Regions from separate parts of the Homo sapiens genome. Here region 2 is linked to region 1. The links come from fine-mapping of genetic effects on gene expression. A gene starts in region 1. The other region holds a variant in brackets. All regions are shown on one strand. Distances are from middle to middle. Region 1 holds the start of PPP1R3E (protein phosphatase 1 regulatory subunit 3E). Region 2 overlaps EFS (embryonal Fyn-associated substrate).

Region 1 (4,389 bases):
GGAAATCAGAATAGTGATTCTTCTGATTCACCGTCCCTCGACAAACAGTCCACAAAGTGCTTGGAGGTTATTAAAAGGCACCCCAGAAAAGTAAGGCTGGCATTTTCCTGGAAGCCCCTGAGTGTACAACCCCTGAGGCTCAGTATTTGGCTATAAAAACAGGTCTGGAGTTGCTTTGGCCTCCGTTTTAATCCCTAAAGCTGCCTGGAGGCTGGAGCTCTGATAGCTACCTGTCATCACTCCCCAGCCAGTCCGCGGACACCGCAGCCAGGAACTGTCAGAGGTGACAAGGGAATCCCGTCATAATGCCAAGGACCAAGGAGCAGTGGCCAGGTTCCTGGGATTAAGCAAGGCAATTATGGCTGAGTTAAAGCTAGGATGGGTAGGACAGGGGGATCTGAGGTGGAAAAGGCCGGTAAGAAGAGGGAATGCGCCAGCAATGTAAATGCCTTCGACTGGGTGGGCTACTTCACATCATACCTCCTCCATCTCCAAAAGGTTCTTAACCTTCTTCAACCGCCTAGGCCTGATGGACCTCCTCCCTTTCTCCCAGAGCCCACTCACTGAAGGGAAGGCCACCATCATCCCCATTCTTTTCCTTTTTTTATAATCCCTCCGGTGCCGTTTCGGGTCTCCTTCCTCCTATATTCTGAGTTCCTTCCACTCACATCCAACCAGCTTTTAACACCCGGATCTCCCGGAGCTTCTTTGGTTCCGCTCACTCCCCCCGCCCCCACGCCCCCACGCCCCCACGCCCCTGATTTCCCCACCCTTTTCGCCCTCCCCGGCTTGACTCCCTTGGACCGCTCCCGCCAATCCTGGTCTCTCCTACTCCTCCCCGCCACATCGGGTCGCCCCGCCCCCGGGTGCCTTTGGTGTTTTCCGCCGTCGGCCGCAGGCGCCTCGTCTCAGATAAAGTGGATCCAGCCCTGCGGCTCCGGAGCTCCGCCACTGCCCGGGTGCTCGGGCCCACGTAGAGCATAGTCACGGCCGCCGTTGTTGTCCCAGAACTCGTGACCTGTCACACGGTAGCGCAAGGCGAAGAGCAGGGCGCCCCCAATCGGCGGCGCGGGCAGGCGGAAGGCGAAGCGGTCGGCGCGCGGCGGGGGCGGGGCCGGACCGGCGTAGGCGGCTGGCGCCTCGCGTTGGCTCCGCCAGCCGTCGGCGCTCCAGCGCACGCTCACGCGCTTCTCGTAGGCCAGGTCCACCACGCGCGCGCTCCCGGCCACGCCCAGCGGGCCCGCCTCGGCGCGTTCCAGGCAGATGCGCTGCGTCAGCAAGCGGGCGGCGAAGCCGGGCTCGCTGGCCGGCTCCAGGGCGGCGCGCGCCTCCTGGGGGAAAGAAGAAGCGGGAGGAGGGAGCCCAGGGCGGAGAGAGGGGAGAGACAGGGGGCGGTGTCAGAGCAAGGCACTGGACCAATCAGAGGCCGACCCCGGCGTCCAGGCCGGCAGAGTGCGGCCCAGCTGCCAGGGTGGCCTAGAGCCACTCGCAGATGGGGTCCCCAAAAGGGATGGGCAGGCGCAAGCCCAGGGATGGGATGGAGATGGGTGCTCTTTGGCAAATCCACTCCCACAAGCCCGCTGCGGCCGACTGGAGGAGGTCCCCAGGAGGGGAGGTGCCCCCGCCGCCTACCTGGAGGCCGCGGGCGCGGGGCTGGCAGGGCGCGAAGTGGCGGAGGGCGTCCCTCTGCAATTGGATCTGCACGTGGCGGGGCACCCGGGGCAGCTCACCGGGACGGAAGCGGCGCACGACAGCCAGCTCCAACCCCAGTGCGTCGGCGAAACGCACTCTCTTGCGGGTGTCTGGGCTACGGCTGCGGGGCGCCCGGGCCCCGCCGCCTCCGGCTGGTGCAGATCGGGCCCGGCGGCCCCGACTCGGTGCGTGAGCGCGGGATCGGGCCCCGAACCGCGTCCCGCCCTCGCCTGGCTCCTCCTCCGGCTCCTCCTCGAGGCTGGGCCGCTGGCTACGGTAGTAGGCGCGCTCCGTTAGCGCGGCGATGAAGCTCAGGTTGCGGGGAATGTCGGTGCCCGGGGGCCGCTCACGGGACATGGCAGCCCCTTCCCCGGCGGGGCCAGCTCGCAGCGCCACCGCGCTCCCCTCTCTTCCTCTCTCCCGCCCGCCCCGCGTCAGCGCAGAAGTCGCTGGGTCCGCTTCTGCAGCCCCTCGCTGCTGTGTATTCTCCTTGCAGACACCTCCAGGATCCTCCACCTCCCGTTGCTTTGCCTCTCCTCTGTGACCACCCTTCCCTCCCTCTGGCCGTCAGCTTCCAGGGTCTTAGACTATCACATCCTGCCTCCTGCTAGCGGTCTGCTCTGAGCGTGCGCTCAACTGCACTCACCCTCCGGTTCCAAGGCCCTCACGGCCCGGGCGCCCCCGCCCACAGCCCTCTGACAGGTGGCTCCGCTTGTCTTCGCTGCTGCACCAGGGGGCGGGGACTCCACCTTTGCGGTCCCGAGTGAAGCTACTCAACCTTTTAAAAAAAACATCCACGGACGGGACGCGATGGCTCACGCCTCAAATCCCAGCACTTTGGGAGGCCGAGGTGGGAGGATCGCTTGAAGCCTGGAGTTCAAGACCAGCCTGGGCGTCATAGTGAGACCCCTGATCTCTACAATAATAATAATAATAAAATGTAAAAAGTCCTCAACTTTTCCGGCACAGCACAGGAAAGGTTAACGCCGGGAAGAAAAAATAACCTTTCATTTTCTTGCAGGGGAAGGTTCAAAACGCCCAGCATGTGACTTTATCTTTGGGGTTCACTGTTTTCTTTTCTGAAACCTAGGCTCCTGGTTTGGGCAGGGGGTGGTGGTGCGTGCAAAGAAGGAAAGGTCATGAAAGCTAGGTAGAGTCTTTCAAATAGAAGGTGAGAATATGGCACCCGAACTGAGAACTGCAGGAAGACCTAGCTTCTAGTGACCTTGAGCAAGCAAGGCATAACTTCTCTGGAGTCAGTGTTCTCGTGTGTGTGTGTGTGTGTGTGTGTGTGTGAGTGTGAGATGGAGTCTCGCTCTGTCGCCCAGGCTGGAGTGCAGTGGCGTGATCTCGGCTCACTGCAACTTCTGCCTCCCCGGTTCAAGCGGTTTTCCTGCCTCAGCCTCCTGAGTAGCTGGGATTACAGGCGTCCACCACCACGCCCGGCTAATTTTTGTATTTTTAGTAGACACGGGGTTTCACCATCTTGGCCAGGCTGGTCTTGAACTCCTGATCTCAGGTGATCTGCCCGCCTCGGCCTCCCAAAGTGCTGGGATTACAGGTGTGAGCCACCCCTGAACTCAGAGCCATACTCTGAACTCAGTGTTCTTATCTGTAAAAAAGTGGTGGAGTTCTGATTTCTAATCCAAGTGTAAGCCCTTTGAGGGCAGGGGCTTTGTCTGATTCATGGTGAGTTTTAGTATATGGTAGGCACTCAAATTATTGAATGAACAAGCACCCAACAACTCTCTTGGAGTTGGGACTGTGGAATTATAGGTCCAGTGGGAGCTTCCAAGAAGGGCAGAGCTGGCTTTTTCCCCTTTCATTTTTTTTTTTTAACATTAGTGAAAAAAAAAAGTGAAGTTGTTTTTAGTTTTTTTCTAACTTTCCTACTGATCTAATATAGCACTTACAATGTGCTAGGTACTGTTGTAAGGGTTTTACAAATACTAACCCATGTAATACAACCATCAGAGGAATAGAGACTATTATGTCTAGTTTAAAGATGAGAGAATTGAGGGAGAGAGGGGAGAGGACTCTTACCCAGGGTCACATAGTTAATAATTGGGGAGGTGGGATTAGGACCTAAACAGTTTAGCTCTAGAGTCCACGCTCTTACCCGCTTGGTTATATAAGATTAAAACATTTAACAATAATAGTTAACATCCTCAGAGTGTTAAAAGAGGGAATATTAGAGTAGAAATGAAGTCTCTAAATTTAAAGCAGCAGGATAGTTTAACTGTAAAACCACAAGTGACTAAGTTGAAAATAAACCATGAGACACATGTTATCTTATTATTATACAATTCATTCCTGTTTACATGCATTCGCACTAGTATTGACTGTAGCAATACTAGTTAGCTAGGACTCATTTTTAAAGCAATATTGACTTTTTAAATTTTACACGTATATAGAATGCATGGATGTATTCTCTTCGTATCATTATATGTGATACAATATATACAATGTATATATTGTATATGCATATACAATATAATATATATAATGCATATAAATTAATGTCTAATAAATCATACATTAATTTATGTTACAATCAAGCTGGCCCAGGAGTTTGAGATCAGTCTGGGCAACATAATGAGATCCCTATCTCTATAAAAAATGAATTTAACCAAGCATGGTGCAGTACACCTCTAGTCCCAGCTACCAGGGAGGCTGAAGTGGGAAGATTGCTTGAGC
Region 2 (4,389 bases), 53 kb after region 1:
TCTGCTTCCAATCATTTGCCATCATTCATTCATTCATTCATTCACCCATTCACTAATCAGTAAAATTTAAGTGTCCACTACGTTCCAGGACTTGCACTAGACTTTAAGGATAACAGGGTGGACAAGTTCCACTTTGGAGACCTTTACTCCAGGGAGACAGACATGTAAACTGGCTATTACAGTACAACTTATGCATATGGAAGACTGTCTTGGCCCTGTATCAGCCCTAGCTTCAGTCCTCTACAAGGAGACCACTTTCTTGGGTTTCATCACTCCCATCCTGTTTGAATCTCCATTTCTCAACAGCATTTGGCACTGTTGACCCCTCTTCCTCTAAACACTCTCTTCCTTTGCTGCTGAGTCTCTCTTGCTCCCCTTTTCTCCATTGCAGAAATCGTCTTCCAGCTCATGGCATTGGTGCTGAGCATGGGCAGGCCATTATCCTCCCGGTTCTTGAGGCAATGATTGAAGTCCAGCGGGGTGACGCAACTGCAGGAGGGGTCTGTATTGGTAGTGATGAGGCTGTGGTGCTGGCTTCTAGGGCCATTCCCGTCTGTATCATTTAGACACCATGGTTCAGTGTCTGGAATCCTCACAGACTTAGTCCTAGGCCCTCCTCTCATCTCACACTGTCTCCACTTTGGGATCTTACCTATGCCCACAGCTTCAATCACCACCCATACAAACAATACAAACCTGACGCCCAGACTGACATCTCCAGCTTCCACCTCTGTTCTGAGCTCCAGACCTATGAAGCCACCTCTTATTTGACCTTCACCTTGGATGACTCACAGGGACCTCAAACTCAATATGTTCAAGACGAAATTTTTGCTTTTCCCCCATAACTTGGTTGGCTTCCACTGCTTTTTTCTGCAGCGAATGGCACCCTCAACATCGCATTGTGGCCAAATGCTCAGGCAACAGCCTTTAGAGCTTTCTCTTCCTTATCCATGTTGAATTCTTTACAAAATTCTGCCCATTTTACTTCCTATATATTCTCAGACATCCCACATCTCTCCATCTCTACCATTATTAGTCAAGCTACCTGTTGCAAAGACCACTTTAGCTCCCTAATTCCTAACTGGTGTTCAGCGTCCGCTTTGTTTATACCTCCTTATCACCCATATGTCATTTATAGTCAGATAGAATGATCTTTTCAAAATACAGATCTGATCATGTATCTTTCCTGCTAACCAGCCTTCAGTGGTGTCTCCTCACTGTCAAAGTGAATATTAAAAATCTAGATACCTCATACATGGTTCTACATGCCTGGTCACATGCTGTCTGTAGTTCCATCTCACTTCTTTCCCCAAACTCTCTGCACTCCAGCCACAGACCTTCTTCTAGTTTTCCCAGCGCCACGAGGCCTTTGAACAAGCTGGTTCCTGCACCTAAAAAGCTTCTTAGTCACATTTTTCTCATCCTTCAGCTCTCAGCCTAAACATCTTTGCTACACAGGAGTCTTCCCTAACCTCTAGAATTGCTACTCAAAGTGTGGTTCATGGACCAGCAGCATTCCTGGGAGCTTGTTAGAAATGCAGAATCCAAGCCTCACCCAGACCCTTGAATCATAATCTGTATTTTATCCAGATCTCCAGGCATAGGTATTATACATTAAAGGTAGAGACACACATCTCTAAGAGATTTGTTACCTGATAGGTACTTTATTCTCTAATCCTAGGTAAGGGCTAGAAAGCAGTGTTCTATCATTGTCAGCCGGGAAATCTTTCCCCCTTCTCTCCACTGAACCACACTTTTAACTTGTCTCTGTTCAGAAATTTTCCACGTATGGGAAACTCTTTTCTTCAGACAGGGTCTCACTGTCTTACCCAGGATGGAGTGCAGTGGCTTGATCACAGCTCACTGCAGTCTCCACCTCCCCAGCTCAAGCAATCCTCCTACCTCAGCCTCCTGAATAGCTGGGACTACATGCATGTGCCACCACACTTGGCTAATTTTTTGATGTTTTGTTGAGACAGGGTCTCACTGTGTGGCCCAGGCTGGCCTCATACTCCTGAGTTCAAGCCGTACTC[C/T]GGCCTCAGCCTCCCGAAGTGCTGGGATTACAGGTGCGAGTCACTGCATCCCTCCGAAACATTTCTTTGCTAATGCATCAAGCAGCCTCCTACCACTTCCCCTCTCCCAACTCATTTCAGCATCTCTTCAGGTTTTACTATGGTGCTGTATAGCCAATATTCCTTGGGGATTTATCGTCTGCATCCTTGTGTCTGTCCTGGAATAATAATCACTTAATTTATACATTGTGGGGCTGTTCACATGCATTTTCTTGTTAGGTCCTCACAATAACCCTGTAAGACCATTATGATCATGCTAATATTGAAGATGAAACCAGGACTTCAGAGGGACTGGCATGATTTACCCATGGATGCACAACTACATGGCAGATCAGAGACTTGAATTGAAACCTCTAATTCCAGGCTAATCTCTTGAAATTCTGTTTGGAAGATGATGGACGATAGACTTCAACACATGGGGGTGAATTTTGTTGGCCCCAGAATCTGACAGTGCATTTTTCTTTGAGAGTGAGATGAGAAAGGAACCTAAAGGGGAGGAGGCAAATGTGCAGGGGTGCCAACAGACTATGATTATGCCCCCAATCCAGTCATCATGCCATGGTAATATCTTGGGAAAGCAGAACTGAAGCAATTGATTTGTAGCTTGGATGTTTTCCCTTGTGGTAAATGGCTAGCGTGATCTATCTAAGCCACGGTCTTATCAATTTCACCAAAGTCCTGAAGACTGACCTTTCAACACATTGCATTCATCTGCAACCGCGGATCCTCCAGAAAATGGTTTGTCCAGAAGGATGATGAGCAGGTCATCCTGAGATGATCTACCTGGGAAGCCAAGTGAAAAGGCCTATACCCTCTTGGTGTCACCTAAGGAAGAGGGTGCCTAGACTGGCCAGCAGCAGTCTCCAGTTGGCCAGGGCTATCCTGTGGTGCAAAGCTGAGGCTGGGCCTTTAGTTGGGGTGGCCTCTCCAGGATGGCACATTTCAAGGCCCTTATGTGGTCAGCTTCTCTCCACATTGACACCTCTCTAATGACATCATATGACAATGAAGTCTTGGAGGAAGGCCCTCAGGTCAGTCATCGGCATCTGCCTTCTGGGAACACTAGTCCTCAGACTCTCCTCCTCTGGGTTTCAGTTCAGATCTCACCTCCCAACCATCCTGTCTAAAGTCTCCTTCACTGCCCTCTCCCCTCATCTAGTTAGTTTCTTCAAATCATCCTGCCGACGTCCATCACCAGCAAATGTCGAATCTATGGCAGGTTTATGTTTTTATTTATGTATTTTAACTGACTTATTTGTGTATCCCACTAGAACAATACATTCACAATATACTTGCAGAACTGTGCCTGGCGCGTCATGGGAGCAGAGAACTTGTCCAGTGAATAGTTGTTGAAGAAAGGAGTAAAATCTCCCCCAAACCCTAAAGGCATCCTTTTCGTAGTGTGTGTCCCATAGGTATGGCTGCTGAGCACCAGGGCTGCTCACCATGCTCCCAAGAAGCAGAGTCAGGGAGGCAGACAGCAGGGTTTATTAAGGTGCACACCCATGTCTGAGCCCCAGCTCTCTCCGCCTTCTGTGGGGAGAAGCCCTCCGGTCTTTCCGAGAACCTTCAAACTCTGGACAGTTTATGTCTTGCCCGCACTCTCAGCTAACAGTGCAGTGCTGATCTTCTAGAGCCAAGAAACAGGAAAAGAGAGAGGCTCTATGTGGCCCCAGGTTTCTGCCACCTGACTTTTCACAGCCAGTCTTCCAGAGGTGGGTGGTAGTGCAGTGACCTCCACCCTAGGCTGAGGAGAGAAGGATCTAGTTCCTCACTGCCCCAGAGCCTAGTACCTGCTCCTGACAAAGCAGGGAATAATATTAAATATAAATAATTTACACAAAATGGCTTGTACAAAAAGCTGTAGGTTAGGGGGAGAAGACACCTCTGTGAGAGGTTGAGATGAGCAGAAAGGGCAGGAAAGGGGAAAGATACCCCCATTTCTCCTAGTCCCTTAACAAAGCCTTCCAGCCACCCAAGGCCTAAAGGGGGGCTTTGGCAGGCAGGGGAGGAGCAGAGCTGTGCCAAAGGACCTTCATGGAGCCAGGCTAGTGAGCAGGGTAGTGAATTGCAGGGCCTGCCCTGCCAGTTCTGTTACACACTGCACCATCTCTTGGATGGCAGGGCTGGATGGGTAGCCCAGGGCAGCTCCCTTGACAGCCAGCACAGTGGCCCGCAATGCCTGGCCCAGTGCTGTACCTGCAGCCCTGACCTGTGCTCTCAGAGGGGCAGAGGCTGCCAGCCGGCCCAGGGTGTCCCCAACAAACACCAGGCGATGAGCAGCCACCACCACCCTCTTGCTGTGGGGCACGAAAAG

The links. PIP is the estimated chance that this variant, and not a neighbour inherited with it, causes the effect. A credible set is the group of variants that fine-mapping cannot tell apart.
Region 2: its variant is the best candidate, but not a certain one, in a credible set for the expression of PPP1R3E in whole blood (TOPMed, PIP 0.58).

What each region holds. Positions count from the first base shown.
Region 1 is chr14:23,300,528-23,304,916 of GRCh38, forward strand. PPP1R3E (protein phosphatase 1 regulatory subunit 3E) reads right to left here and starts at 2,332. Exons shown (of 5, transcript NM_001276318.2): 1 at 1,633-2,332; 2 at 771-1,331; 3 at 231-337. The coding sequence starts at 2,049. The coding sequence ends at 909. RefSeq lists an enhancer at 779-968 and silencers at 1,029-1,458, 1,469-1,528, 1,609-2,118.
Region 2 is chr14:23,353,119-23,357,507 of GRCh38, forward strand. EFS (embryonal Fyn-associated substrate) reads right to left here. Exons shown (of 6, transcript NM_005864.4): 6 at 3,288-4,389. The coding sequence ends at 4,108. Among named protein-coding and RNA genes, the nearest start is that of SLC22A17, 2.4 kb to the left of the region's middle. The variant C/T (reference allele first, on the strand shown) is at 2,034.